Linked DNA regions of Homo sapiens. The protein of the gene in region 1 purifies or fractionates together with the protein of each later gene. This does not show direct contact. Each region holds a gene or a part of one and is shown on either strand. Other genes may lie near its edges.

Evidence for each region.
Region 2: the proteins of DUSP16 (region 1) and AMER1 purify together in Homo sapiens (affinity purification with mass spectrometry; one large-scale study listed by BioGRID and IntAct). This does not show direct contact.

Annotation. Positions count from the first base shown.
Region 1 is NC_000012.12:12,517,842-12,521,532, forward strand, and holds part of DUSP16 (dual specificity protein phosphatase 16), read right to left. Parts: intron 3,623-3,691; 5' UTR 3,258-3,622; coding exon 3,030-3,257; intron 2,160-3,029; coding exon 2,021-2,159; intron 1-2,020. UniProt on the Homo sapiens protein: Dual specificity protein phosphatase involved in the inactivation of MAP kinases. Dephosphorylates MAPK10 bound to ARRB2.
Region 2 is NC_000023.11:64,192,037-64,195,727, forward strand, and holds part of AMER1 (APC membrane recruitment protein 1), read right to left. Parts: intron 1,349-3,691; 5' UTR 1,251-1,348; coding exon 1-1,250. UniProt on the Homo sapiens protein: Regulator of the canonical Wnt signaling pathway.

The DNA.
Region 1 (3,691 bases):
AAGAAACACTTCCTGTTTGAAACAGGGATGTCAGGGTGTTCTGACTCAGTGTGTCACACCACGTGTCCCTAGAGTTGACATAGCTAATCAGGCAGTCCTGTTTCTTCCTTATTGCCCAGTGAATGCCCCTCCCAAGGCTACACAGGATAGATTAAGAACCTTCCCAGGTAACAAAGGAATGCTCTTTGGTAAAGGAGTAAAGGGTACAAGTAGCTAAAGCACCTGTGCTAGAAACTCAATGTGAGCTCACTCCTCTGGGGGGCTGTCTACTTGACCGAGATGTTGAGTAAGGTCTCCCCATAGGGTAAAAGTAACTCAAACAAGAACATGGTGGGATAACCACTCTGTCACGAAGCACATCTTGGCATATTGCTTCTTTAAGAAAGACTCTGGCTGGGTGTGGTGGCTCATGCCTGTAATCCCAGCACTTTGGGAGGCCGAGGCAGGCAGATCACCTGAGGTCAAAGTTCGAGACCAGACTGGCCAACATGGTGAAACCCGGTCTCTACTAAAATACAAAAATTAGCCAGGCGTGGTGGCAGGTGCTCAGAATCCCAGCTACTTGGGAGGCTGAGGCAGGAGAATCGCTTGAACCTGGGAAGCAGAGGTTGCAGCAAGCCAAGGTCACACCACCGCACTCTAGCCTGGGCGACAGGGCAAAATTCTGTCTCAAAAAAAAAAAAAGAAAAGAAAAACCCTGATCCCATTAACAGGATTCCAAGGTAAAGTCCCTCACACAGTGGCCACCTGAAACATGAAATGAGTTCCTAAACTCACCCAATTAGTTTAGTGAAATGCTAATAATAGCTGTTACATTTAACACACTCATACTCCCAGTAAAAGAATGTGTCTATCAACAGAGACAGAATCTAATATTATAATTCTCAGTTACAGACTTCTGAAAACTACATTCTAAGACAAGCTGGCTTCACTTAAGAACACTAATTGAAAGATCAGACGGAATCACAGCATAAATGAAAGGTGTACAGATAGACAATCTGAAAAAGATGAACTATCCTTGTTCTTAGAGAACTGAGGAAAAGCTTGTGAGAGAGAACTGGAGACATGGAAATCTTATCTAAACCTGCCCAGAGTTTAAAATTATTAACACACCAACAACTAATTAATCTTAATGTTTTGTTTTTCTTAGACCAAATGTTTAAAAGCACTCTTGCCTATCACTGAAGCTGAATCCGCCCAACACAGCAGCTTTATGTTAAGGTTACTGTGTGTTGTCAAACTATATTCCCAGCTCTATGAGCCCACAGGGCAAGGGAAAGGATTTTCATTTGCAAAACGAGAAGCAAAGGATGAATAGCCTTCTTTGGAATTTGATGGGATTAACTCCTACAATGCCGTCCTCCAGGAGAGATATAGAATATTTGGTCCTTCCCACACACTTTATAAGATCATCTGGTTGCTTAGCATTTCTACGTTGAGACTTTTTTTTAATTATAAAACAAATAAAAATATACAAGTAACTTTTAAAACAATTCCCCTAATTACCAGAAGAAACATTCTGCACACATTCTCCCCCTATTTCATTGTTTATAATGCCCAGAAAGGTGACCATAAGGCTTATCTCTGGAGTCCGCTCCAACTATAAATGTTAAGTAAGAGTTTGACACTGTAATATTGGTCTGGTTCTTGCCACAGGGGTGGGAACTAGCAGGAGCTGAGATGTTCATCATTTGGTGTTCTTACATCACAGGTGAATGGAAAAAGGCAGACAGAAGCAGCTGGCTTTGAGCTATCCATATGGGTGTGCAAATCTATGTGGCACTACCAGTTAATAGCAAGCAAAGAGGCACTTGAGCCAAGTCAAAAATACACTGACCTATGTGGAAGAATGATATAGTATTCAAGTTAAATAGAACGGTGACATCAATCAAAAGCTATAAATAAATCATTTTACACAGCAAAGTTGGGATGATCTATTGTACTGAGTTCACAGTGAAATATGCTTACTCATACAGCTCAGCAAGATTCTGAGTCCTTTTAATTCCATCACGAGCCTTACCTGCAAGCAGGTGAACAGAGTTGAAGCTCTTCTCCAGTTTACCCAGAAGTACAGTGAGAAAACAGTCTGAAGAGAGAGAGGCAACATCTTGGGAGCTTTGATCGTAAACTACAACCTTCTGACTGCAATCAATGTCAACCTGAAATGCAAACATGAGGCTTGTTAGGAAGAAGGTGAGAAAAGTAATCTCAAACTACTGCTTAAGATCTCACATTTACCAGTGCTGGGGCGAATAATTGCTTCCTGTTTTCAATTAATAATTTGAATAAAAATGAGATGTAGTCAATTTACGAGACAGACACATACAAAACTCTTAAAAACCAAAATGATGCTATTTCTGTGTAGGTGATCTCACGATTCCCTGGTTTTAAATCCTTTATACTATAAAATGGTAAAGTTCATAATAAACCAAACAATATGCAAAATAAACATAACCCTGGACCTAAACAAACTTTTTTTAAAATGACTTTTACACCTTAACAAAGAAATCAGTTGTTTATTTAAATTAAAACATGAGCTCATTTGTATTTGTGAAGAAAAAAACCAACTTCCTCACCACACAGACAACATTTTAGTATCCCAGGAATAACTTCCCTTGAAGATATCATTAAGTCTTGACCAATGTTACCACATGTGTTATGACACATAAAAAGCACCCCTAATAATTAGTTCCTACTTTCTTTCCAAAGAACTTGAAAAGAATGACTTTCCTTTCAGTAAATTTGCAGATAATATAGAATAGTGTTTAATAAAATCATTTTAGCAAGCCACAAGAAAATATAGCACTTGTCCAAACTAAAGCAAGTTAATCCTTCATAGTTTAGAAATATTATTAAATGTGGCAATATGGACAATAAATTATTTTGAGGTACCACAAGGCACCAAAATTTAAAAAGCAACCAAAACTTCCTCAAATTACTTTCTCTACTTAAAGAGGAGGCTTCAATTAAAATTATTCCTCATTCAGTGTGTCCATTTATTTTGAAAAGGCAAAAAGGAAAGCGTTTACCTTATGTTTCGCTGAATGCTGGATGAGCTCTGTAATTAACACTTTGTCCTGTTGCAACCTTCGCTTCATAAGCTTGGAGCAGTTGATATTAATGGCTTCCAAAATGTGGGATGTATTGTATTCCACAAATGGCCGGCTATCAATTAGCAGCACTTTTTCCGTTCCACTTTCCAGCAGAGCCACCAACCTCTCAGTAACAATTTGAGTTCCAATCATCTCATGGGCCATGACAACAATAAGTCCTCTTTTCCCACCTCCTTCTTTAATTTGCCACGATGATGTAATGGTGGTGTGCTCAAAGGCTCAGCCACTCCATTGTACTAAAAGTGTATGAGGTCAGGCTGGTGGTGACTGGCAAAAGGAGAGTTAAACCCATTTTCAGCAAGAGCCCTCCAAGTGAATGTCTCTTTCTCTTTCCCGTTGATGTGCTCTTGCAAAGGACTCCGTCCACAAAGCAGCCCCTCACATTTGATTCATAAAGAGATGACTGGAATAACCATTCCACAACAAAAGATGCTTTGGAGCAGCCAGCGCATTACATCATTCTTTACCTTTGCTCCCGCGCTCCAACAGCTTTACACTGGACTGAAAGCCTACGCGGAGAGAGAAAGACAGAAAACAAAACGTGAGGTCAAAAAAAGAAGAAAGAGTGTCAGATTAGA
Region 2 (3,691 bases), on another chromosome or scaffold:
GGATACATTTGGGCAGTTTCCCACAGATATTCTAAGTCATCATCTTCTTCCTCCTCCTTAACCTCCTCTTCTTCCTCCTCTAATTCCACCTCTTCTTCCTCTTCTTCCTCCTCGTCATCATCATCTGGCAAGGCCATCTCCTCCCCACCTCCTTGGTAGGTCACCAGGCAGGAACTTCGCTTGGTCCCATCTCGGTTTGCTCTCTGGCCCCCAGAGGCCATGCTGTCTGTCATACTGTCCATGTCCTGTTCTGCTATTATGTCACCACAACCTGTCAATGAATCAAAGCTTTTCAGGGATGTCACATCCCCAAACAAGAGGCTCAGTGGGTCCCCCACAGGGCCATTGGGTGGGTTTACCTCTCCTGCTACTACCTTCTCCCCTGTTTCTGGGCTATGGGGCTCCTCTAGGCTACTGGCTTCAGGGGCAGGCTTGGGTTGCACATGTGCTGAGGCACAGGCCTCCATGGGTTTTTCTGGATCTTTACAGGCCATTTTCTCAGTAGCTGGTGGAGAAGGTTCTGGTGTTGGAGAAACTTTTGGCCCAGGGGCATCTTGGGGGTTAGCATTTTCCTTTCTAGGGGCTTGGAAGGTCTCCTCAAAGCAGGGCACCTGAGGGGCTGAGCTCACGTGCTCATGAGGCCTGGCTCTGACCCTCTCAGGCCCCTTGGCCCCTGGCTCACTTTGCTCAGCCCCAGTGACCTTGCTCTTCCGGTGACGGCGGATACTGCTAAAAAAGCCTTTTAGGCCTTTCTTTGGCTTGGGCATAGAGGGAAACTTCTCAGCCACAGCTTTCTCTGTGGCTCCAGCCACAGATGTCTTACATCTGGAGCCTGTCTCCAAAGCCCCATGGGCACTCTGAGAGCTGGGAAATTGGCAGGGTAACTCAGGCAAAGGCAGGGAGAAGCCAGTTCCTTCACTGACAACATCTTCAGGGCCATGGGCTGCTTCACTCAGGCCATCGTGGGTCTTGCTCTTGCTGAGACCTTTCTTGGAGCTGCCTTTCCCAGAACCTTTGCTCCGTCCCCCTCCAAAGAAACTAGGCAGAGTACAGATACCCTTCTTGCCACCAAAGAGTTTCATGGCAGTTTTCTTCAGCCTACCTGGGCCGGATGAGGATGGCTCTGAGGTTGGTCCTTCTGTCGCCTCAGCTGCCTTGTTCTTGGCTCCTTTTTCTGCTGTTTGTTCACGGGTACTCCCAGAGGCTGCAGCTCCCTTGGCCTGAGCAGCTTCATCCTTTTGGGTCTCCATGATGATGGGGACAACTGAGGTACGTCCAGCTGGAAATGCAGCCTCAGGCTTCCAGGCACTGTTATAACATTATCAGTCAGGAAGCATCACAGTGGGGTCTGGAGGAGATAGGAGAGACAAAGACAGAGAGACAGATACTAGTGAGCAAGCATCCAGGCTGGGTTTGCTTTCACCGGACGTCAGGCTTGAGTGGAACAAGAAAGAAAATGATGGAAAATGTGGGGCAAATCTTAATCCACTCGATATGCTTGGCTTGCTGGGCCAGCTCTCTCTGGGCCCCAAGGAAGCAAAACTCTACACTGAGCAACAAGAAGCCTTCATCCCCTACCTTCTTGCTGGGTCCACTCCCTTCAGACCATCCTAAGCTCAGGGGACCACTGGGCAGGGGGACCTGCAGTTGTGTGAAAGGCCTAGTGGTGCTATTGGCTGTGGGAGGTATTATCAATTATCAAAGGGGATGAGGATAGGGAGAGACAAGAAAGGCAAAAGGGATGTTGGCTCCAACATCACAGAATTTTTGAAAACCATCTGGCAAAACAGTCCATTGAGTCCTCACAGGGCTCTGTTGGATTCAAGCTTCAGTTTCATATTAGTCTGGGCTCTCACTGACATTTTGTCTGAGACTGAAAAGTGGACCTGAAGTTTCACCTCCCATCCAAAGCTTCCTAAATTGCCTGCAGAACCATGCTCAGGCTTCAGAATCTCAGAATAGGAGCCTCACACATCCACAAAGTAGGTCTGCAATCTAGAACCTGCTAAGACAATGAAATGGGAGCCTCAAGAAAGGTACTCTCTGGGCTTCAATATTCGCCATTCAAGAGGCCTATCAATATCTCTCCCTCAGAGAGGTGATATGAGGGTGGGTCTAAGCCAGACCCTCTATTGGCTGTCCTGCTGGGAAGATACTTTAATGCGGTCATCAATGGAACCCCAAATTCCACTTGAGAACCATGAGGTGGACTGTTTCTCCTCTACTCTCCTCCTCTTATTATTTTTGTCCCCATCTAGCTCCCTATCTAGGAAGGGAACTCCTTGAAGGCCCTACATGATTCATATTCCTGGTGTGTGAGATAGGTTCCCAATGGCTTTTTAAATAAATAAACCTGGTGCAAGCCACACCCTTCTGGTCAAGGCTCTCAATCCTCCAAATGCCCAAATACCAACAGAGATGGAATAAAAACAAGACCTAGCCACTACCCACCACAATATACCTCTGCACCTCTGGTCATCCGCTAGCTCAGTGACCAGCCTGCTAAAACCCAATGACCCCTCCCTGGGAAGTCCCTCACCAATTTGTCCCCTCTCTGTAGAGTGGCACCAGCAGATGGGGGAATCTGGGAGGAGAGGGGAGAGGGGAAGGGGAAGGGGAGGGAAGGAAGAGTAAGAGAGGGAGAGAGAAGCAAGCACCCTTGGTCCAAGAACAGCTGGACAGTACACCAGGCCTGTGATTGCTTGCCATAATAATAAGACTCACACATTCACCTAAAGTGGAAGACTGTGGACCAGCACTGAGCATGGAAAGAGGCTGGCAGCTACACTCTAGCCTTGGAGCCCCTGGTTCTGTCTTGCAAACATTAATTTTGTGCCTGCTGCCTTGCTTGGCTTGACACTTGAATCATCAGTGTGATGATCCAAGCTTCCATAAAGAACACTCTGCATAACTGAATATTAAAATTGGAGCAAGATAACAGCTGGTTATCCAGAAAAGAAAAGAGCAGGTGAAAAGGAAAGTTCATCTGAACCTCTCTCTGCAGAGATCTGAATTGCCATTTGCTCAGGTTAGAGATTTTTCTGTAACATATTTTGACATCACACTGTTCCAACTCAGCCCTGCAACTGATAGTCCCACAATAGACAGTGCCCCCTCCCACCTCCAAATACACACACAATCACACCTAAACACACAATCACCCAGTTTTCTGCCCCTGGGTCTGGTGGGAATAGGGGCCCTATCATGTCTGAATGCCCCACTTTCCACAGCACATTTTTACCTCAGCCTTAAAATTACTGCTAAGGTTATCGTCACGGTGTTGGGGATAGGGGAGTTGGGGAGGCAGTACTGGAGTTGTTTGTGAAATTCTATTCCCCTCTGGAATTCAGTGCTTCAGGGCAGGACAAGAAGGGAGAACTCCCAGCCTTTGCTTCTAAGGAGCTCCTAGGCTAACAGGGAGAGTCCTATATGTAACAGTCTGTTAGAAACTGGACCAAACAACAGGAAGTGACCGGCAGGCAGGAGGGCAAGGTGAACATTACCTGAGCTCTGCCTTCTGTCAGATCAGCAGAGGCATTAGATTCTCATAGGAGCGTGAACCCTATTGCAAACTGCGCATGCGAAGGATCTAGGGTGCACTCTCCTTATGAGAATCTAACAAATGCCTGATGATCTGAGATGGAACACTTTTATCCCAAAACCTTCCTCCTCTCCATCCATGGAAAAATTG